Homo sapiens: one gene and its partners. The protein of the gene in region 1 interacts with the protein of each later gene in a biochemical or structural test. Each region holds a gene or a part of one and is shown in the gene's direction. Other genes may lie near its edges. The genes, in order: EPS8, ITGB7, ITSN2 and ITGB5.

Region 1 (5,796 bases):
AAAGGACTTGTTTAAAGGTAACAGAAATCATAAAATAATAGCATGTTTGCAGGCTGATGAACTGATTCAGTGAAGAAGGAAAATTAATAACAGGATAAATAAGGGAGAAATGACTCAGTATTTGAATAGGCAGAGAACTTGAGGCCTAGTGCATACATGGATAGTTAGCCTTGGGAGCAGGGAAACAGCTCTTATATAACATAATAGGAAGGCAGGCAGAACATATGGGGAAAGTGCTGTTAGGAAGAACTACTAGAGGAACTTACGGAGGTTTTCTTCTAACTATTTTATTCATAAATTAGGAAATGAGATCAGCTCAAGGTGAGGATTGGGGAATAGGGTTAGAAGTTTGTAGAGAGAAAGTAGAATATATTCAATACTTGTCTAAGACAGTGGGCAGTTACATGACCTTAGGCAGGACTTCTTGGCCTTTGAGGCTGGGTTATTCTCTGCTGTAGGAGAGGCTGACATTATAGAATGTTGTGTGCATCCCAGGCTTCTACCCACTGTGTGACAGCAGCAGCCTTTCCCCTTTTTCTCCCTCAATTGTGACGACCAAAAGTGTCTCCAGATATTCCCAAATGTCCTCTGGGGCCAAAACTGTCCCCAGTTGAGAGCCACCAGTCTAAGGAAATGTAGTATAATTGTCAGGAAGCATTAACAGCCAAGTTAAGGTTCATAATCATGAATTTAACATGAGATCATTCAGCATTGTTGTGTTATATTCAGCTGTGCAGGTGCAGGCACAGAATACGCAGAAAGTTAGGTTTAACCAGGATTGGGGTTTTGCCAAAGGAGTACAATGAAGAGACTAGAGAAGAGCCAGGGAGTTATTTTAATAATTGATCATGGCATTTATACCAGGCGAGGATAAAAGTGAGGAAAGATGGTAGGAACACTAGACTGTAGGTCCTACTGGGGTCAAGGATTATAGAGATTGGGGTTCTAGAGAGGGTGATGTAATATTAGGGATTTTCAAAAAGAACCTACTCCCTGTTGGTGTCTAGGAAGGAAATCTCAGATGGAGGAAGTGCAAGATGAACTCATCCACAGACTGACCATTGGTCGGAGTGCCGCTCAGAAGAAATTCCATGTGCCACGGCAGAACGTGCCAGTTATCAATATCACTTACGACTCCACACCAGAGGATGTGAAGACGTGGTTACAGTCAAAGGGATTCAACCCTGTGTGAGTCTCTCTGTGAATACTTTGCAATTCTGTGTGTACAACATGCATTGTTTTCAATTTGCTTAGTTAGATGTCACAGATAACTGTTATAAAACATAAGGGCACAGACTGCATACTTTGTGCCATACTCAAGAACTCACTATAGCTGTTCATAGCTGAAAAAGAACTAAAATAAGCATAAATAATTATTCTGATGCCACCCCATTTTCGAATTGGTAGTATCTGTTCATTATTAGTTCTTTAAGCAAACTATTGGCAGCTTTGAGGCCCAGTAGCTTCTTTTCTCCATCAGATTACTGTGATGTAACCTAGGTAGGACCATGGTCTTAGCTGAACTTCCTAGACCACATAGGACATAGAGCATAAGCTTTCCTCCTGCTGCAGGATATAGTGTCTCTGGCAAATAAAAAATAGTGTTACCTAGCATCAATTATAATCTTAATAGAACTTTTCCTTTAATAAACCCATAGTAAAGGTTCTATTTATCTATCTAAAAGTCTATAAACATTTCATATGTATTTGGCACAATGAACTATTAGAATAATACATATTCAAGGGACCTTGACATATTATAAACTCACCTACCCAGCATGATTGAAAAATGAGATACAATGGTTAGTCAATTGCCAGGTTACTAGAAAGTTATCTATTCCTTCTATAAAACACCAAATCCCAAGAATTGGTATTAAACAATGACCCTAAACCGAATTGGCTCATTTTTGATACTTTGTAATTAATAATCTGTATAGCCTCAGGGTCATCATCATGAAAGAAACTTGTCATTGCCCTAACTATAAAGACTGTAGTGGCATTTAATAAGGGTTCCAGGGTATGGAACGCTTAGAAAAGAGAAGTTACTAGCAGGAACAGATAATTTTCTCCTTTGTTTGTAGGCAATATTTTTAATGCTCAGTTTCTTTTTCCTTTTTTTTTTTTTAGGACTGTCAATAGTCTTGGAGTATTAAATGGTGCACAACTTTTCTCTCTCAATAAGGATGAACTGAGGACAGTCTGCCCTGAAGGGGCGAGAGTCTATAGCCAAATCACTGTACAAAAAGCTGCATTGGAGGTATGACTTGTCAACCTAAGGTGGTGTTTTTCTGCAAATTGAAAGCTCTGGAAACAACTATTTATGTCCATATTGGCCAATTTCCCTTTCTTAACAGAGCTGAATTAAATTTAACTCTGCTTTTGTAAATTTGTCACTGAGATCATCAATGACAGTTTCCAGAAGGTTAATTTGTTATAAATGCTCATATGATGTGAAGCTTGAGCACATACTTTTGGAAACTTGACAAAAAGCATAATGTTCTCATTTTATATGTATTGACTAATTCTATAGGAAATTTAATTTTGACATAACAATGGAAATTAGCTTCTGAGTGAGTAAGAGCCTTAAGAGGCCAGAATCCTTGCCTATTCTTAATATTTTTTTTTTTTTGGAGATTCTAATAACGTATAGGTTATAAGATTGTAAAACCCTGGCTGTGTGTGTTAGGTCTAGTAATACATCTCAATAATCGGGAAAGATACATTAGGTAGAGATCACTGAAAATAGAGAGCCTGGAAAAGTATTTAATCACAATGGTCTGTATGAAAGCAGGAGAGTCATGTTTTCTAGATTGCTTTATACTTAAGCTTCCAATATCCTATTTTAGACTTAAAATGTGCTATATACGGGTAGTAGTTTCCAACTGTTACATCTCACAGCTCTTAATAGTTTCATGAAAATTATACTTGGACTCAAATGAAAGAATGTAGGCTTTGGCATGAAATTGATCCATAATCATCTCTAGCAGGTATATTCTATAAATTCAACAGTTAAATAATTCAGGGTAAAATCACTTCATGCGTATCACCCCGTAGCCATTCTGAATCAAGAGAAACCATATTTCCCTTGGAGGTTTTCCCTACAACATTGATCTTGAAGGCTCCATATTAAAGTTTGATTTGATTGCTTTCCATATGTTGAATATTAATAAGGATTATATATTTTTCTCAAGCAGTTTTATTACCACTATATTTAATTTTGTTGAGAGTATATAATTACTTCTTCAAGGTATGTTAGAAAATGCCATATTCCTAAAATTCTGAATTCCTTCATCCCACACCTGCCTATCATTATTGTCATTTGCTGTCACCACCCACTTCAGGATGGTCTCTTGCTTCTTGTTCTCTTCCTATTCTCTGCATGGGAACTGAGGCAGAGGCTGACTACCTGAGGTTCTTCATGTTCCTCAGCCACCTTCTACCACCTCACCCTTTCCTTGGATCTAGTTAATCTTTTAGATTATTTGCCTGTGTTGCCAGAGACTTCTGTTGATGGGAAAGGAGAAAAGCCAGCATGGTCGGAGGGTCAGAACTATATGGAGGGGAAACTGGGTGAATTCTGAGCCCACTCTGGCCTGAGTTAAAATCTTCTAAAGGCAGATCAGTATCTTGTTTGAGCCCAAAAGAGTCCTTTGATAATTTACCATGTTATTATGCTTATTGTACACATTTCCTCTTTCTCTCAGCAAACCTAGAGTACTATACATACATTATTGATTTATCTTTATCATGTTCAAATGAAAGGCCTGGTGAGTGAATTGCCTTAACAGACTTTACAAAATGAAAAATTATTAATGTGATATATTAGTGAAGTGCAGAAGCTTCACTTAAAAAGTAGAGCTGTTAGCTTTCCTAAAGAGATACTAGAAGAAAACCACAGTAGAATTTTATCCTGAGCCATTTCATGATATGACCTGCAGCCTGCACAAGTCAGTAACTATCTTGTCTGAACTGTTTATCTTTCAGGATAGCAGTGGCAGCTCCGAGTTACAAGAAATTATGAGAAGACGACAGGAAAAAATCAGTGCTGCCGCTAGTGATTCAGGAGTGGAATCTTTTGATGAAGGAAGCAGTCACTAATTTGTTTGTTTGTATTTAAACTCCATTGTTTTTGGCATTATTCCAACATGCTTTGTTTTAAGAAGCCTTGAAGGGAATGTCAGATTCATTTTTCTTGATGTAATTTATCACCATAAAAAAAAACCCATGCAAACCTGAGTGAGCACAGGATTTGCTTCTAGGCCCATTATTTTTATTAAAACTGAAAAAATTTAAACTGAATTTTTTGACCTTGGAAAATATTTTTCTTACTTTACCAAGGTGAAGTTTCCTTAATTAGACTAATTATTTTATCCCCATCCCAGGGTATAAACAGGAATTGTTTTGATAGTGGTGGAGTTATTCACTGCAACAAAGCAACAATGTTGTCCATGATTCAAAATCTAAGCAGTTTCGATTTTGCCTGTGAATATGGTGTCTGTCATTCAGGGCATAGCTCACTGTAGGCTAGCCTCTGCTTACTTAAGTCTCTTCTCTGACATACTCAATGGAAGAATATTTAGATTTATTTAAAGTTCTTAATGCCAACAGTTTAAAAAAAAATTAAAACATTTGAATGAACTGTAAAGTACAGCCATACCTTGGACATGCAAATATAAATCTATGGAGCATTCTCAAGAGAGTTTGTCATGGCTCTGTTGATTGCAACTCCTTGTATAGCTTGTATTTTGATTTAGTTTATATTCTGCTTATTATGTATACTGTGTTCTTATATATGAGAAAGCACAAATGCGAAAGAGGTCATGTCTTCTCAAAATCTAGCAAAGGAAGTAGTCTGCATTGGTGTGCATTACAGTATTTTGCTTAATGAAAGCCTCAGTTCTGAATGTTGATATGAGTAGTTAAAAGGAAGTGGGGCCATTTTATGTGTTTATCTGTGTCAAGTATTTCTGGTAATAAGAAGCACTTAATTTACACATATTTTAATCCTGTGAAAGATTCCACATAGAGAAAAGAAAGATACCTAACCTTCAACAAATGTTATTTTTGGAAACACAATTTTTGTCATTAAATGTTATATTATTTCACATATATAAAACAGATGTTATGTAAGAATGTTGTATATTTTAACATAAATCATTTAGAGAAATTATCTAGATTCATTAATTTTCATAGTGCCTTTTTCACATGAGTCAGCTGGAAAGTCTGCAATAAACAGTATTTGCTGTCTGTTAATAAATGGTTTCTGTCTCATTAGCAAAAAGGATCTGTGCTAGATCGGCTGAGGATTCGAGTTGAATGCAATGGGAAAAAGTAGAGATCCACATTTTAAAAAAACTATATATTATTCTATTTCTGAGTGGGTAGAGAAACTCTAGAATACTTTTTTCGGTTGTTTTTCTTCTTTTCGCCTCTTGTTTCATCATCTTTTCCTTCTACCATCTAGTCATATTTGGTAATGGTAATGGAACTAATTTACACTGCGCTTACGATTGCTAAATGCTTCCATATAAATGCTTTCCTGGATATTTACAACAACTCTATATGAATTATTACAGATGAGGAGATTTAGCTTCCTAGAAGCTAATTTTCCCCAGATCCTGAAGGATGTGGGAGTTTCTCATCTTCTATCTCTCGGTCTCTCTATAACACTGCCCTTTGGATAAAGTGGAACAAACATGAGCATGATAAAGGTGAATTAGTTTAGATCTTTTACATTTCATAAGGACTGATACATATGTATAATTTAGCCTTTATTGAAAGGGATAAGATGAAAGA
Region 2 (6,893 bases), about 38 Mb from region 1:
TGCAGGTCCATTCTGCACCTCTTGGCTCGGGTGCAGAGTTCACCCTGTGCCCTCCGTTATAAGTCCCTCCCCCAGCCCTGTCATGTGCCTTGGGCTCCTCCTGCCCTCCATCTCAGCCATTGGGGCAGGGACCCTCCTACACTACAGAGGGGCCAGGGGATCCCTCTCTCCCTAGTGCCTTCCACCCTTTACTCCCCAGAGCAGCTTGGCCCAGGGAGGGGGGATGCTGCTTAGCTGATCCCGCCCTGACCCAGAGGAAGCCTCTATTTATTTATTAGCTTTTGTTTACACCGTGGAATTGACCCCTTCCTCCAGGGGTCTTGGGTGGGGGAGCCCAGGGCCCCTGTGACCCCTCCTTTCTTCCTCCAATCCCCAGTTTGTATTTAGCTGCCAAATAAGATTCCCATTGGCTCCCTGTGTTCTCTTGGGGGGTCAGGGTGCTGTCCCCTCCCCTCTGTTTACATCTCCCCTCTACCCCGCTGTATCGCATATTGCTGAGTTTTCTATTTTTGCAAAATAAAGTGATGGAAACTCATGAGATGTGGCTCCCTTTAGGAGGTGGTAGGGAAATGACCAGCTGACCTGGTGAGGGAGCTGAGTGAGGAGGGAAAGCTTGTAATTGATTGGACTTTGCAGCTTTCTTGGTAGAAGAAAACAGGATGAAGTGTGCCTGGATTGTGGTGGGGACAGGATGGGGGAAAGGGAGCCCATGGGGACTCACCCTGAGTGACCGGGTTTCCCACAACCACCAGGTGTGGGTTCAGAATCTCACTCTGTCGCCCATGCTGGAGTGCAGTGGTGTGATCTCGGCTTACTGTAACCTCCACTTCCCAGGTTCAAGCAATTCTCTTGCCTCAGCCTCCCGAGTAGCTGCAATTACAGGGGTGCACCACCACGCCCAGCTAATTTTTTTTATTTTTAGTAGAGACAGGTTTCGCCATGTTGGCCAGGCTGGTCTCGAACTCCTGACCTCAGGTGATCCGCCTGCCTTGGACTCCCAAAGTGCTGGGATTACAGGCGTGAGCCACTGCGTCTAGCTTGGTGTGGGTTCTTATGTTGGATCCTGTGGATCTCTGGGAGGGCATGAATGGACTTCAGAGGTCTGTAAGCCTGTCTCCACCTCCAGTTATGCATATGTGCATATCTGCTTTTCTCTGGGGAAGGAGTCCATTGAAGTTTTATTTATCTTTTTGTTTTTCATTTTTTTTCTTGAGACGGAATTTCACTCCTGTTGCCCAGTCTGGAGTGCAGTGGTGTGATCTTGGCTCACTGCAACTTCTGCCTCCCGGGTTCAAGCGATTCTCCTGCCTCAGCCTCCCAAGTAGCTGGGATTACAGGGGCGCACCACCATGCTCAGCTAATTTTTGTATTTTTAGTAGAGATGGGGTTTCACCATGTTGGCTAGGCTGGTCTCGAACTCCTGACCTCAAGTGATCCACCTACTTCAGCCTCCCAAAGTGTTGAGATTACAGGCGTGAGCCACCATGCCTGCCCTGAAGTTTCATTTAGTTCTCATGAGGGCTCCTGGCCCCAGAAGAGAAGAAGCCCGCATCTAAGCTACAGTGTTACTGTTTTACACCAGCCCCTCACCCAGGGAGCCCTCTGGCCTTCTGTCCCCAACCACCCTGCTATCACCTTATACCTTACTCCCCCCACCCTCTCTGTTCCCACTCTTCACCCCATGACCTCCACTCACTGCCACCTGCACTGTTACCTTCTTTCCGAATATCTGTCCTTGCTCCCACACGCCTTCCCTCTGCAACACGCCTTTGCAGTGCCTTTGGCCTCTACTGCTGCACCCTGTACTCTTCCCTTCGCCCTCTGTGACTCCCCTCAAGCCCCTCCTCCGTGTCCTACCTTCCCTGGGACAGTGCCTTGCCTACCTTGTTCCTGGCTCTCTTCATTGGTGACCTGTGGTTATGACAAAAAAGTTGAGGATGTGGGAGTAGGGGAGAGAAGAGTGGAGGGCGGAAAGCAGAAGAAGAAAGTGAAAGAAGCTCTAGAGGAAACCACAGGGCCTGTGGGGAAGGAGGGTCATTGCCGTGGTAACCCCTGGTTGTGGGGGAAGGGTATAGGTCCTGGCTATCCCATAGCCTGAGGCCAGCCAAGCCCACCCAGAGAAAGAGCCCCTCCTCTCCAATTGTCCCCTCCTAGCAGCTACACCTCTGCAATCCATCTGACATTTATTGAGCACCTACTATAAGATGGGCACTTGGCTAGGTGTGGTGGCTCCAGCAGGGAAGCCTTGTAGAGCCAGTCCCTGCCTACAAGGAGTGCTCCTTCTGGTAGGGGAGATCGACCTGTGAACACAGACCTCATGTCTAGTTCCCTCTCAAAGCTCTTAGTGATCTGTATGGGCCAGGAGCAAATCCCATTAATATTTTCCTGCTCTCCCTACGGGCTTCATCCTTGCCTTGGCTTCAGCTGTTGTTCCTGCACTCTCTGCTTCTCCCAGTTCACCTCCTCCACCCCTTTCCCAGGATCCACTACTGTGTTGGCTCCTGGTTCCCCAATCACATGCTCTGAGCCTGGCCCTATGCCTCTCTCTTCCAAGTTTCCAGTTGTGTGGACCTTGAATTTCTCAAAGCCTCTTCACTTCTCACCTCTGCTACTTCTCATCCCTACTAATTCTCTTATCAAGCCCTTACTTAGTATGTGCCAGGTAGTCTTGTAGGCAATTGATATGAATTATCTCTTTTAATTCTCACGACAATCCTGTGAGTCTTGCTGGACAGATGAGAAAACAGCTGCAGGCAGGTTTAAGTAACTCAGCTAAGCTCCTTACTACTAGTAAGTAGTAGAGCCAGGATTTGAACTCTAGCAACTTGGCTCCAGAGCCTATGTAGTCAAGCACACTTATATAATGTATCCTGGGTTTTCAAAATGAACAAGTCTGTAATTTCTGGCCTCTCTACAGTACTTACTGCCCCTATTCCCTCCTATCATGTTCCTTCCTATATAAGTAAATGGAGAGATCATGAATTTTGGAGGCAGGCAGACCTGGATTTAAATCCCAGACCAGCCGAGTGTGCCTGTAATCCCAGCTACTCAGGAGGCCAAAGTGGGAGGATTGCTTGAGTCCAGGAGTTACAGACCAGCCTGGGCAACACAGCAAGACCCTGTCTCAAAAATAAAAAACAGGCTGGGCATGGTGGCCCACACCTGTAATCCCAGCACTTTGGGAGGCCGAGGTGGGCAGATCAATTGAGGTCAAGAGTTTGAGACCAGCCTGGCCAACATGGTGAAACCCCGTCTCTATTAAGAATATAAAACGTTGCTGGGCATGGTAGTGCACCCCTGTAATCCCAGCTATTCGGGAGGCTGAGGCAGGAGAATCGCTTGAACCTGGGAGGCGGAGTTTGCAGTGAGCTGAGATTGTGCCATGGGACAGTGAGCTGAGATTGTGCCTGGGAAACAGAGCAAGACCCTGTCTCAAAAGTTAAATTAAATTAAAATAAAAAAAATAAAATAATAAAAATTTAAAATAAAAATCTTTTTTCTTTTTTTTTTTTAAATCCTAGACTAGCTACTTACTAGCTGTGGGACCTTGGGCAAAATTCTTTATTTCCTGCTTCCAAGCCTCAATCTCTGCATCTGTAAAATTGGGGCTTGGGGGAATATTAACCCCTATCTTATGAGATTGTTGTGAGGGTTAATTGTAATATGTTACGTTCAACACATGACAGGGGTTCAATAAATGGGCTTCTTTCTTCCAGATCTCTGTATTGTCCACTCCCTTGGCTCAGCCCCACCCCTATCTGCACCACCTTCTAGATCAGTCACCCCCACCAACCCCAAATCTTCCCCACCCTGGGGAGTGTCACTTCCTCCTCTGCCGTCTCCCAGATCAGTACACAAAGGCTGCTGCTGCCGCCAGAGGAAGGACTGCTCTGCACGCACCTGTGAGTACCAGGGCACCAGCCCTTCTGCCTCCTCTCCTTACAAGCTCTGGCCCACCTGGTCCCAACCTCTTGGGAAGAGGGCTCTGACCTGGATACCGAGGGTCCTGTCCAGACTTGAGAAAGGCTCTGAACTCCTTTCTGCATTCCTAAGATCCCCTGACCTGGTTCCCTCCTCCAGTTTCACAGTACCCCCACCTCCACCTCTCCAAAAGCCCAATCTCTCCTGCATCAGTTTCCCATGAGTGGGTCTGGAGGCAGGGATGTATATGAGTGCTGTCATCTGAGTGCCTGCCATGTGCCAAGGACTATACCGAAGTAGGGCAGGTATACCGATTATACTGAGGGAGGGTTCTTCCAACATCACCCCCAGCTGCTATCCCTAATGCTCTGCCTTCAGCTCAGACTTCTTCCTAATCGGCACCTTGGTCACAGACTCCACTGTCCTGGGACACTGAGGCCCAGCAGCTCAGTTCCGTCCCCTCCTTGTGACTCCCAGTGGGCAGCAGAGGGTTCTGCTTGATTTGGAAGGTAGGGATGGGTTTGGAAGAGGCTCTGTTTCTCAGCTGCTGAGGGGGGTCACAGGGTGTGTACTGGAGTCAGAATGGAGTCCAGAAAAATGGAAATAACCACTTGGTCCCAGAGAGAGAAGGGAAGACTGCAGAATACCCCTAAGGAAAGAGAAATGGGATTAGGCAGAGCCCACCAGGGCTAGTGGGGAGAGAACACAACTTTTGATGGAGATAGTGCCTGGGTTGGAGGGAGGAAAGGAGAAAGCACAGCAGAGGCCTGGCCCTGCCCTGTCCTGCCCTGCCCCTAGTTCACTGGGTGACCCTGGCCTCATGGAATTTAGGTTTCCATTTGTAAAAAGAGTGGGATGGAGTAGTAGATTCAGCCATTCTATAGTTAGGAACAGAGGGGAAAAGGAAGTAAAATAGCCCTATGAAGAAGTGGAGCAGAGAAAAGCAGCAGAGAGATGCAATAGAAGTTTTGAAATGAAAGGAGCCAGAGAGAGACAGAGAAGCAGACAGAGAAATAGGTGGCAGAACATGTATTCTCAAGGAGGGGAGAAGAGAGGATAATTGGAAAGAAAGGTAGGAAAGGGCTGTCCAGGAAGTCCCAGGGCCCCCTTTAAGGGGAGATGAGTGGGCCTAAGGTCTCTGAAAAACCTATGCGGCAGCCGGGGCTCCACTTGTGAGAGATGAGTCAAAACCCGGCTTTGGGTTGCAGCATCTCCAGCCTCCCTGACCACAGGCATGCAGAGCAAGCAGGGCTGAGGTTACGCTGAGGCTGAGCTGGGACTGGCCTCTCCCCGAGGGGTGGAGGCTCCGTTATATATGGCGCCTGAGGTCACAGGTGGTGGGGAGCAGGACCAGGACATTCAAGGACTCAACACCCCACCCCTTTCCCACACTCTGTGCAGAGTATCTGGACCTGACTCTGGGCCCAGGCTGAAGAAGATGCAAATGGTTTATGACAAGGAGTTAGTTGGCCTTTCTCATACATTGCTGATGGGAATGTGGACCAGTACAAGTCCTGAAGAGTTTATGTTGGCAATACCCACCTATATATATATATTTCTTAGCATGAGAATGTAGATGAAATACACACCAGTATTACAAATGATACCTATCTAGTTATCCTGCACGTCCTCTGCTAGGGATTTATCCTACAGATTCAGTTGCAGACGTGTGAAATGATAAATACATGACATTTGGCTGGGGGTGATGGCTCACGCCTGTAATCACGGCAATTTGGGAGGCCGAGGCAGGTGGGTCGCTTGAGCTCAGGAGTTCTAGACCAGCCTGGGCAACATGGGGAAGCCCCATCTCTGCAAAATAATACAAAAATAATTAGCCAGACATGGTAGCATGCGCCTGTAGTACCAGCTACTCGGGAGGCTGAGGTGGAAGGATCAATTGAGCCGGCAAGGTCAAGGCAGCAGTGAGCCATGATTGCACCAGTACACTACAGCCGGGTGACAGAGCAAGACCCTATCTCTCAAATGAATAAATAAATAAATACATACATTACTTTTCATTTCAGCATTATTTGTCATAGGGAACTAGAAACAATTTAAGGCCAGGCACAGTGGCTCATGCCTGTAATTCCAGCACTTTGGGAGGCCGAGGTGGGTGGATCACTTGAAGTCAGGGGTTCGAGACCAGCCTGGCCAACATAGTGAAACTCTGTCTCTACTAAAAACACAAAAATTAGCTGGGTGTGGTGGCTCACACCTGTAATCCCAGCTACTCAGGAGGATGAGGCACACGACTCACTTGAACCCAGGAGGCAGAGGTTGTACATCACGCCACTGCATTCCAGCCTGGTCGACAGAGTGGGACTCTGCCAAAAAAAAAAAAAAAAAAAAGGTAAAGAAAAAAGAAACAAAGATAGTAGTAAATGATATTTATTTAGGGTAGGTGTGGGAACTGGGTATGGCATATGGAGTAGGAGATTTCTCACCATCTTATTTAACTTTTTGATTTTTAAAATGGTAAGATACACAAACATTTATCATTTTTACCCCTTTTAAGTGTACAATTCAGTGGCATTAAGTACATTCACTAATTCCAGAACTTATTCATCACCCTAAAATGAAACTGCCCATTAAGCAGTCATTCCCCACTTCCCCTTCTCCCAAGCTCTGGTAACCACTAATCTACCTTCTGTCTCTGTGGATTTTTCTAGTTTGGATATGTTCCATATGTGGAATCATACAATATGTGACCTTTCATGAATGGTTTTGTTCACTGAGCATGTTTTCAAGGTTCATCCATGTTGTAGCATGTATGTATCAGTACTTCATTTTTTTTTTTTTTTTGAGACCGAGTTTTGCTCTTGTTGCCCAGGCTGGAATGAAATGGCACAATCTCGGCTCACTGCAACCTCCGCCTCCTGGGTTCAAGCGATTTTCCTGCCTCAGCCTCCCAAGTAGCTAGGGTTACAGGAGACCACCACCATGCCTGGATAATTTTTGTATTTTTAGTAGAT
Region 3 (7,041 bases), on another chromosome or scaffold:
CAGCAGAGCAAGACCCTGCCTCAAAAAAAAAAAAAAAAAGAAGTGGATGTGTTTTCATTATGTTATACATAAGGAGGCTAATGACTAAAGAGATAAAGAAAAACTTGCCCAAGAACCAAAATTAGCTGAACTGTGATTTGAATCCAGATTTCTCTGTCTTGAATATCCATATACTACTGTATTTTGTAACGACATACCAAACTGTTTTAAATATCTTTAATACTGTATTCCCAATATCAAATTGCCATAATCACTGGTAGTCTGTGTAATCTAGTCTGAAAATGTCCAGACTACATGATGCTAACTTTGTTGTTTGATTTTTTTAGAGGAGGAAAGCAAATTGATTCCATTAATGGAACTCTGCCTTCATATCAGAAAATGCAAGAAGAGGAGCCTCAGAAGAAATTACCAGGTATCACTGAGTGTCAAAGTTGTATATTTATACTGAGTTCTTTTAAATTCTACCTTTAAATGTAATGGAATATTTAGAATTTTTATATTTTTAATATTTGATGTGCTATATGAGAAAAAACTATTTGATAGATGGGATGTATTTTGGTATTGATAAAATTAAGATGGTCAAAATGAGAAGAGTGTGAAGGAAGAAGAGACAGTTAGATGTATTTGACAGGATTATAGACATCTGAGTTAAAGTATTTCTCCTAATTTAGGCTGAGTTATTAGAGGAAACTTTGTAATGAAATCTTTACCTTTAAAAACATTTAAATATTGGTTGAAAGAATACATTTGTAGCTGTTTTAATATATTAGGATGTTAATGACATCAAAACAAATGTATAACCACACAGCTTTGATTGTCCTTGAAGAAGAGAAAAAAGTTGAAAAAGTTTTTTTTTTTTTTCCTTGTTGCCCAGGCTGGAGTGCAACAGCACAATCCCGGCTCACTGCAACTTCCGCCTCCTGGGTTCAAGCGATTCTCCTGTCTCAGCCTCCTGAGTAGCTGGGATTACAGGTGCCTGCCACTATGCCTGGCTAATTTTTGGTATTTTTAGTAGAGATGGGGTTTCACCGTGTTGGCCAGGCCGGTCTTGAACTGCTGACCTCAGGTGATCCGCCCACCTTGGCCTCCCAAAGTGTTGGGATTACAGGCATGAGCCACCACACCCAACCGAAAAAGTATTTTTATTGGCAAGTTTATAAAAATTATTTCTCTCTTGATTGGATTCAAACTTAAAAATTTGTTTTTCTAAAATTGAATATCCTTGAAGAAAGTAGATATTTTTCCACTTAGATTTGAGTTAAAATTATCCTTAGGAGAAGTATTCAAATACTGATAGCACTCAAATGATCACAAGGCATAAGTATATAGAAACTAGATTACAGGTTCTGTAGGCTGTTAATGTGTGTGGATGCTGATAGGCATACCTTGTTCAGTTACTTTTGAGGACAAACGGAAAGCCAACTATGAGCGAGGGAACATGGAGCTGGAAAAGCGACGCCAAGCCTTGATGGAGCAGCAACAAAGGGAGGCAGAACGTAAAGCCCAGAAAGAAAAGGAAGAGTGGGAACGAAAACAGAGAGAATTACAAGAACAAGAATGGAAGAAACAACTTGAATTAGAAAAACGCTTAGAGAAGCAACGGGAATTGGAGAGACAACGAGAGGAAGAAAGGAGAAAAGACATAGAAAGACGAGAGGTTATTTTTAAGTTTTTTACTTCTTAAGAAAATCATTACATTTAATAAGTGACTATATTTCATTTGATTAAAAAATGCTTATTTTTGAATTTTTGTTTTGCCTTTTGCTCTGCATCATTTCATTCTTACCCTATACAAATCTGATCATTCCTTCCCTTGAGGAGGGAAAGAGGCTTCTTGCTTATAAGGAGTTTTCAGAACTGGTACGTGGTAGAGAAAGCATCCTCTGCAGGTGATATCTCAATCAAAGGAGGATCGACTGCAGAGCTAAGTTGAGTGAGGAGCTAAGGTTAGTTAGGCAACTGAGCAAGTCATTAGACGAAAGCAAGTTTAAGATCCAGATTAAGAGTCCAAGGAATTGGAGAGACAGAAAGATGAGAGCTGGGCATTGAAAGTCTCTCTAGAGAGGAATCAAGAGGATGGGCTTGCACAGGCCTTTGGGATAGTGTTGCTGGGAAAGAAGGGTCCTTAGGAGGACTGGCTGTGTTTTAAAGGGCCAGGGATGGAGCACAGGAAGTTATTGCACACTGAAATAATATAAATAGAATTTTTCCCCCAGATACCAGAATAGAGGGAAAATTATTCCTGTTAACATTTATATTTATGAAGTCATTCTGTAACTTATTAAGAGAAAAATGACTGTAACAAAAGGATGGTCTTCCAACCTGGGCAACATGGTGAAACCCTCTCTCTACAAAAAGTACAAAAATTAGCCAGGTGTGTGGTGGTGTGTGCCTGTAATCCCAGCTACTTGGTGGGGCTGAGGCAGGAGAATCGCTTGAGCCCAGGTGGTGGAGGTTGCAGTGAGCCAAGGTGGTGCCACTGCACTCCAGCCTGGGTGACAGAGCAAGATGCTGTCTGGAAAAAAAAAAAAAAAAAAAAGATCTCGTGAAGAAATGAGAAAATATGATAGATGAAGCCACTTTCTTGGAAGTCTTTAAGCCCATTAATAAAACTAGATTTGCCTAGCTACCCTTAGGCACTAAAGCCACTAAGTGCTAAACTCTGCCTGACTTTTATTGTTGTCTTCCCAGTTTTTGAATCGTGCAAAATTTTTGATTTAAAAATTAAGTATAATTCCTTTTTTTTTTCAGGCAGCAAAACAGGAACTTGAACGACAACGTCGCTTAGAATGGGAGAGAATTCGGCGACAGGAGCTTCTCAATCAAAAGAATAGAGAACAAGAAGAAATTGTCAGGTTAAACTCTAAAAAGAAGAATCTTCATCTTGAGTTGGAAGCACTGGTATGGCTGAAGTTTAAGTGAAATTTATCTGAATGATGATGGAGCTACCTGTTGAAAAATGTAATTGTGGGCCAGGCGTGGTGGCTCACACCTGTTATCCTAGCACTTTGGGAGGCCAAGGCAGGCAGATCAACTGGGGCAGGAGTTTGAAACCAGCCTGGCCAACATGGTGAAACCCCATCTCTACTAAAAAAAAAAATTAGCCAGCTGTGGGCTGGGCATGGTGGCTCACTGTAATCCCAACGCTTTGGGAGGCTGAGGTGGGTGGATCACGAGGTCAGGAGTTCAAGACCAGCCTGGCCAATATAGTGAAACCCCATCTCTACTAAAAATACAAAAATTAGCCAGGAGTGGTGGTGTGCGCCTGTAGTCCCAGCTACTTGGGACACTGAGGCAGAAGAATTGCTTGAACCTGGGAGGCGGAGGTTGCAGTGAGCTGAGATCGCGCCACTGCACTCGAGCCTGGGCAACAGAGTGAGACTCCGTCTCAAACAAACAAACAAAAATTAGCTGGCCGTGGTGGGTGGTGGTGGGTGCCTGTAATCCTAGCTACTTGGGAGGCTGAGGCAGGAGAATCACTTGAACCCAGGAGGTGGAGGTTGCAGTGAGCCAAGATCGCACCACTGCACTCCAGCCTAGGTAACAGAGTGAGACGCCATCTCAAAAAAAAAAAAAAGAAAAATGTAATTGTGTTTTAAAATCTCTCGTGAATTAGTTATGTCTTAATGTCATTAGTCACATTTTCATATAAACAGACTGTACAATATGGTTTACTGAGAAAAGGATAATGACTCAAAATGCTGAGAATTATGTTGTAGCATCAGTTCAGACACTGATGAACCATGTACTCCTGGGCAAGACATTTCCCTTCTCTGTGCCTCACTTTTCCCTTGTCTGAAATAAAGAGTTGTGTTAGTTGAGTGATTTTCAGTTTTCAGATTGGTCTCTGTAAGATGGTCTGAGGAGGACTAAGCAGAGGCAGGAGAGGGGAAGCTCGGGCAGCAGAACAGTGATTTTCTCTCCCTAATTCTTCCCACGCTTCACAACAGAGAAGCTTGACATTTATGTGCTTTATGTTTCTTGGGGTTTCACTCAAGATTTGCTTGGAAAAAAAAAGATTCTACTATTAAAAAGACAACTGATTTGAAACTGCTGACCTAAATGATCTCTTACAGTTCCAGTTCTGCAGGATTGTAGTTCTTAGCTAATACTGGCCACTAAGCAGTTTTTACCAATCAGATGTTAGAGGGTCAAGTTGTTAAAAGACTTTGTTTGAAATGTGTGGTGAGAAGGTATAAAAGATCTGGCACTATTCTGCCACAACCCTAGAATCCCATGAGCCTACCCTGATCATATAGTAGGGTTTTACAAAAATGCATACCTAGTCATGTAGTAGAGCCAGATTTAGATCTTGTGTGATCATAGTCTAACATTTTATTTGGTTGATGACTTGAATTACATTAAAAATTATTTTTTTAATCATCACAATATCTTTAGTCAGAAATATATTATTTTATTCCTTCAAATGGATAGACATACATACCACAAGTATTAATCATGCCAGAGTACTACAAAACAGTTGTAAAAAACTTTTAACTCTCTTGCACTATTTTTATATATATATATCATCTTGACTATATATAATGGGAAGAGACCTTAAGATTGATTGTTTTTCCCTCAAGAACTGGTGCAACACATGAAGCACAGTAACACAGGTGAATGTGCAGAGTCTGGAAAGGTCCAGAGCCTATACGTATCCCATGTTGAGGATAAGAATGTGAGCTCCAGCAGAGATACACATGTTCCTTTCAGTGTATGTATTTCAAATATGAAACAGTCTTCAGTAAAACTTTTCATCATCAGTAAGTTTTAACCCAGGATGTCATTTCCCCTCACTCCACTGTATTAGTTTGGTAGGGCTGCTGTAACAAAATACGATAGGCTAGGTGGCTTAAACAACAGAAATTAATTTTTTCACAGCTCCTAAGATCTAAGACCAAGGTTAGTTAGGCTTAGTTTCTTGTGAGGCCTCTTTTGGTGGCTTGCAGGTGGCCATCTTTCATTGTGTCCTTATATGGTGTTTTCTCTGAGTGTATTTTATCTCTGGTGCCTTTTGTGTTCAGATTTCCACCTCTAATAAGGACACCAGTTAGATTGGATTAGGGTCCACCTGTATGACTTTGTTTAACCTTAATCACCTCTTTAAAGGCCCTGTCTCCAAATATTGTCACATTCTGAGGTACTGGGGCTTGGGACTTTAACATATGAATTTTGGGGGACACAGTTCAGCCCATAACCCCCCATGTCACCCTTCTTCTTAGGTCCCATTGAGAATCTCTGCTATTTGTTTGATTTCTTCACAGAAGAAGAGGAAAAAAGGAGAAGAATATTAGTATAGAACAGAACTGTTGCCAAAACGTTCCTCCTGGGCACTGTTTTAATTAGAGGAAATTAGATGGCCATATTTAGGGTAGAAATAGAAGTTCAGAGAAGGTAATGCCGAGCATCACATGCAAACATTTATTCCTCTTCATCATTCTTTGAGAGTGTCTCTGATATTAATATTGTTAATTAATATTGTCTAATGCTGAATTCAGAAAAAAATTCAATGTGTTATGTTTCTGCTTTCCCATACTAACATATGGGCTCTTGCACTCTGAGAATGATGTGTTTCCCACTAATAACTCGAGTTAACAGACACAACTCTGAAACACATTCCACTTGGTTTTAGGCATTTGTTTCAGGATGAATATGAATGATAACTGAGATTTTAAAATTTAACTAAAAATATTATTCTCCTTGTAGAAACATTTTCTATTAGCATTTTATGTTACTATATATTTATATGATCTTCCTATAGAATGGCAAACATCAGCAGATCTCAGGCAGACTTCAGGATGTCCGACTCAAAAAGCAAACTCAAAAGACTGAGCTGGAAGTTCTGGATAAGCAGTGTGACTTGGAAATTATGGAAATCAAGCAACTTCAACAGGAACTTCAGGTAAGTCCTTCACTGCTAAATTGTTCTTAAACATGTACAATTAATAGTTCTTCTGGGCTGGGCACGGTGGCTCACGGCTGTAATGCTAGCACTTTGGGAGGCTGAGGCGGGTGGATCCCCTGAGGTCAGGAGTTCGAGACCAGCCCAGTCAGCAGGGCAAAACCCCGTCTCTACTAAAAATACAAAAAAATTAGCTGGGTATGGTGGCGCATGCCTGTAATCCCAGCAACTCGGGAGGCTGAGGCAGGAGAATCGCTTGATTCCGGGAGGCAGAGGTTGCAGTGAACCCAGATCGCACCACTGTACTCCAGCATGGATGATAGAGCGAGATTCCATCTCAAAACAAAACAAAACGAAACAGTTCTTCTAATAGAGTTTTGTTTTGGGGGTCAATAACCTTGAGTCTTTGATAGGCTTGTGATCTAAATACACGCAATCCTGTATACAATATCAGGAAGTCCATAGACCTACTAAAACTCTGCTAGACGTCTGGTTAAGTTTTGCTTAATATATATACGTAAGTGGACATTTATCACTTTGAGTTTTAACTCTTTAACAATGTTTATGCATTCTTAATTCATTACTTGCTATAACAAACGACCTTAGACTGGGTAATTTATAAACAACAGAAATTTATTACTCATAGTTCTAGAGACTGAGAAGTCCAAGATCAAGGTGTTAGCAGATTCAGTGTCCGATGAGGGCTTGCTGTCTCCTTTAAAACTAGTGCCTTCTTGCTGCGTCTTCACATGCAGAAAGGGTAAGGCAGTCCCTTCAACTTCCTTTATAAGGACAGTCATCTCATTCATGAGTGTGGAGCCTCCTAAAGCCCTACTTCTTAATAGTACTGCATTGGGAGTTAGGTTCCAACATATGAATGTTGGGGACATACCAACATTCAGACCATATCATACATTAAAATAAGGTTATTGCTACTAATTTTAGGAAATTTTGACTTAAAGTTATTCTTTTTAAAATTATGATGAGAACTTGAATATGTCCCTTGGGGTCCTGGTAATTCTCTTCCTTACTTGTGCAGTAGGGTCTGGTTCAATAATTACTATTTGCAGAATGGGGCTGTGGAAGCATTCTGCATCTCTAGAGTTCTCTTACCCAATTTCTCTTACTGCATGGACTGG
Region 4 (3,959 bases), on another chromosome or scaffold:
TCCAAGGACAACGGAGCACTGGGTTCAACATTCCTGCTGCTCCCATGCTCAGCTCCCAGCACCACTGAAGAGGTCAAGCTTTAATCCAAATACCAACATTCTGCCTCTGCTTGGACCCAGGGACCAATAGCCTTTGCCTTGGAGTAACTGGAATATCTGATATCACCCCTTACATTCTTCTTGGGGGTAGGGAGGCAGGGGTGGAGCAGAAAAAGATTTGCTCTCTTCAATCGACAGCACTGCAAACTATTTTTCCAAATTGAGCCCAACCACATAATGTGCCTTCCTGAGGCCAGAGGCAGAGAGAAGTGTGGTACCAGCCTAGGATGCACGCCTGTAAGAATGAGGCTTTGTTTCCAATGCTGTGTCTGAGGTTCTTTGAAAACAAGCACATTTACTCCAAGGGACACCACGCTAAAGGCTTACAAATGTTGGCCCCCAGCCCAGACCTTGTGGAAGTGGCTTCATGTGGCTTCATGGTACCTCCTGCCTGCCCAGTCTGCTCCTGAAACCATGTACACGAAAGCTGAGCGGGTCCAGCATCCTGCAATGGAGACTGGGCCAGGCGGGATGTGGGTGCTGCCCATGAGGGGAAAGGCAGCCCTGCCCCAGGGCCCTCATCTAGACTTTGCCACACTTGCTGTGTGACTTTAGAACAGTCACTGTCCCTTTTGAATCTTTCATTTTTTGTACATTGGGGAAACCCTCCTGAGGATCTAAGGGAGAGCCGAGGAGAAGGCCTTTGGAAGGGGTGCAACTTTCATCTCAGAAATGCCTGCAGTTGCGTGAGAGGGGCATGGTGATGCTAGTGGCTTTGCTTACCATGCTTCTGGTCCCCCCAGAGTGTGGAAACACCCCCAACGCCATGACCATCCTCCTGGCTGTGGTCGGTAGCATCCTCCTTGTTGGGCTTGCACTCCTGGCTATCTGGAAGCTGCTTGTCACCATCCACGACCGGAGGGAGTTTGCAAAGTTTCAGAGCGAGCGATCCAGGGCCCGCTATGAAATGGTAAGCACGTGGGAAATGGGAAGCAGAGGAGACTTCAAGCTCAGAGGCGTGGTTGAGTTCAGCGGTATGTTAGCAATAGAGGCTCACTAATGTCTTTGGCATTAAAAACAAAAGAATCAACACCAGAAACGCTGTGCCCAGTTCTGGAGAGAGAGAATTGCACAGCCCCAGTGCAGAGTGAGCTGCACAGATCCCTGTTCCAGACCCAGGTCAGGAAGGTCATGGGGGCAGAGGCGCTGGGCGTGCCTCAGGAAGAGTCTGACCAGTCTCAGAGAGAGCACAGACCAACAGGAAAGCTCAGATTCTTATGGTCCATTACAACACTCACACCTGCAGTCTGGTCACCCCAGGCAGACTGCAAATGCCCAGAGGACTGAGCGCAGTCAGTTTCTGCTGAACCTGGGCTTGGTTTCTGTTAAAGCTGGAAGGGACTTCAGAGACCTTCTGACCCAACTCCTCCTTCCAGAGGTGGATAGTGAAAGCTTAGAGAAGGCGATGGCTTTCCTGGGGAACACAGAGCTGTCCTAGAGCCCACGGCCGTCTCCTCCTGAGTGCTCTGCCTGCTGCTGTCGCAGGGGGCTGACCTGGGAAGGGATCCTAGGGCCTGCGTCTGTCGGTTTGAGTGTGTGAGCTAACATGTGTCCTCATCCTCTTCCCCGCCGTGTTCTGTAGGCTTCAAATCCATTATACAGAAAGCCTATCTCCACGCACACTGTGGACTTCACCTTCAACAAGTTCAACAAATCCTACAATGGCACTGTGGACTGATGTTTCCTTCTCCGAGGGGCTGGAGCGGGGATCTGATGAAAAGGTCAGACTGAAACGCCTTGCACGGCTGCTCGGCTTGATCACAGCTCCCTAGGTAGGCACCACAGAGAAGACCTTCTAGTGAGCCTGGGCCAGGAGCCCACAGTGCCTGTACAGGAAGGTGCCTGGCCATGTCACCTGGCTGCTAGGCCAGAGCCATGCCAGGCTGCGTCCCTCCGAGCTTGGGATAAAGCAAGGGGACCTTGGCGCTCTCAGCTTTCCCTGCCACATCCAGCTTGTTGTCCCAATGAAATACTGAGATGCTGGGCTGTCTCTCCCTTCCAGGAATGCTGGGCCCCCAGCCTGGCCAGACAAGAAGACTGTCAGGAAGGGTCGGAGTCTGTAAAACCAGCATACAGTTTGGCTTTTTTCACATTGATCATTTTTATATGAAATAAAAAGATCCTGCATTTATGGTGTAGTTCTGAGTCCTGAGACTTTTCTGCGTGATGGCTATGCCTTGCACACAGGTGTTGGTGATGGGGCTGTTGAGATGCCTGTTGAAGGTACATCGTTTGCAAATGTCAGTTTCCTCTCCTGTCCGTGTTTGTTTAGTACTTTTATAATGAAAAGAAACAAGATTGTTTGGGATTGGAAGTAAAGATTAAAACCAAAAGAATTTGTGTTTGTCTGATACTCTCTGTGTGTTTCTTTCTTTCTGAGCGGACTTAAAATGGTGCCCCCAGTGGGGATTGAAGCGGCCGTGTACTTCCTCAGGGATGGGACACAGGCTGGTCTGATACTCCAGACTGCAGCTTGTCAAGTAAGCATGAGGTGCTCGGGGCAGTGAGGGCTGTGCAAGGGGGAACACTGAGCAGATACCTTTGGCCCCTTCCAGCTTTTACTGACAGAGAGTTCCAGGCTAGACACCATAAAAACCACCCCTTGTTCTGAGGGGCTGAGGCTGGAAATAGATTGTACAGACAAGCAAGGGTTGAGTGGTGGTTCCCACACGAAGTCATCTCTTAATCATCATTAGCAATAGCAGTTCCCTTCCAAGGCCTCCCCTCACTCCCGAAACACTTACGTCCCATGCAGGCCCAATGCAAAAAAACACATTTGAGCTTTTTTCCCGCAGGGCCATGAAGTCCCCTTAAGTTCCCATATCTAAGATGGTTGACTGACCCTCTCCCCTTATGTACAGAAGAGGAAACTGATTCTCAGAGAGGGGAAGTGGCTTGCCCGAGTGTTTGTTAGGAGGTTACTGAATGACAAACTGTTCCTAAGACCCCATCTCATGCTGGCCAGAGGGCCAGCCTCCTCATTCCTGCTTGCTCTTAGAAAATCTTTCACTGATCATTTTTTGTCACTGGAATAACTTCAAGGTTATTATGCTTTCATTCCAAATGGATCTGTCCTCAGCTCTGGACCCAATTCCCCTTACTTCATTTTGGCAAACACTAAGTCAAATAGTGAAATGCCTGTCACTACATAGAACCTATTACCTGGGGCAAATACGAACAGATTGAGTTTCCTTCATCTTGTGTAAATATGATGAAACAGAGACCTGGTAACTTGGTGACACTGTTAAACCCTTTTTGGGATAAAGCCAAATGTAAATGAAAACATTAAACAGATAAATTGTGGTGTTGAGACTTTTCTGAATTGAGAAAAATAAATGTAATTTTGGAAGAAACTTTGGGTTTCTCTCATGTTTAATTTTGGGTTTCCTGGAGACAAATCATTAACTGGCTCAGAATCTCATTTTCTCTAAGGGCACGACATTCTTTTTTTTTTTTTTTAAGAGAGGATCTCACTGGGTCACTCAGGCTGGAGTGCAGAGGTGCAATCTCAGTTCTCTGCAGCCTCAATCTCCTGGTCTCCCGTGATCCTCCCAACTCAGCCTCCTAAGTAGCTGGGACTACAGGTGTGCACCATCACACCCAGATAATACTTTATTTTTTGCAGAGACAAGGTCTCACTATGTTGCCCAGGCTGGTTGGTCTACAACTCCCAAGCTCAAGCGATCCTCCCACCTTGGCCTCCCAAAGTGTTAGGATTACATACGTCAGCCACCGCGCCTGGCCTGGGCACAACATTCTTGAGCCACAGATAGCAAAGGAGGATTTGTTCTAGTTCCACTTGACGTGGAAAGTGAGGGTGTTTTCGTCTGACGCCGAGGGATGTTACGGAACCAGTGCTC

The links.
Region 2: the proteins of EPS8 (region 1) and ITGB7 form a complex in vitro, tested with the Homo sapiens proteins (one study listed by IntAct).
Region 3: the proteins of EPS8 (region 1) and ITSN2 form a complex in vitro, tested with the Homo sapiens proteins (one study listed by BioGRID).
Region 4: the proteins of EPS8 (region 1) and ITGB5 form a complex in vitro, tested with the Homo sapiens proteins (one study listed by IntAct).

Annotation. Positions count from the first base shown.
Region 1 is NC_000012.12:15,619,619-15,625,414, reverse strand, and holds the end of EPS8 (epidermal growth factor receptor kinase substrate 8), read left to right. Parts: intron 1-1,007; coding exon 1,008-1,188; intron 1,189-2,127; coding exon 2,128-2,257; intron 2,258-3,984; coding exon 3,985-4,098; 3' UTR 4,099-5,281; downstream 5,282-5,796. UniProt on the Homo sapiens protein: Signaling adapter that controls various cellular protrusions by regulating actin cytoskeleton dynamics and architecture. Depending on its association with other signal transducers, can regulate different processes.
Region 2 is NC_000012.12:53,204,211-53,211,103, reverse strand, and holds the start of ITGB7 (integrin beta-7 isoform a precursor), read left to right. Parts: upstream 1-3,852; 5' UTR 3,853-3,902; intron 3,903-4,299; exon of another isoform or gene 4,300-4,430; intron 4,431-6,893. UniProt on the Homo sapiens protein: Integrin ITGA4/ITGB7 (alpha-4/beta-7) (Peyer patches-specific homing receptor LPAM-1) is an adhesion molecule that mediates lymphocyte migration and homing to gut-associated lymphoid tissue (GALT).
Region 3 is NC_000002.12:24,294,525-24,301,565, reverse strand, and holds part of ITSN2 (intersectin-2), read left to right. Parts: intron 1-326; coding exon 327-412; intron 413-1,394; coding exon 1,395-1,657; intron 1,658-2,751; coding exon 2,752-2,901; intron 2,902-5,761; coding exon 5,762-5,902; intron 5,903-7,041.
Region 4 is NC_000003.12:124,761,441-124,765,399, reverse strand, and holds the end of ITGB5 (integrin beta-5 isoform a precursor), read left to right. Parts: intron 1-842; coding exon 843-1,009; intron 1,010-1,681; coding exon 1,682-1,777; 3' UTR 1,778-3,452; downstream 3,453-3,959.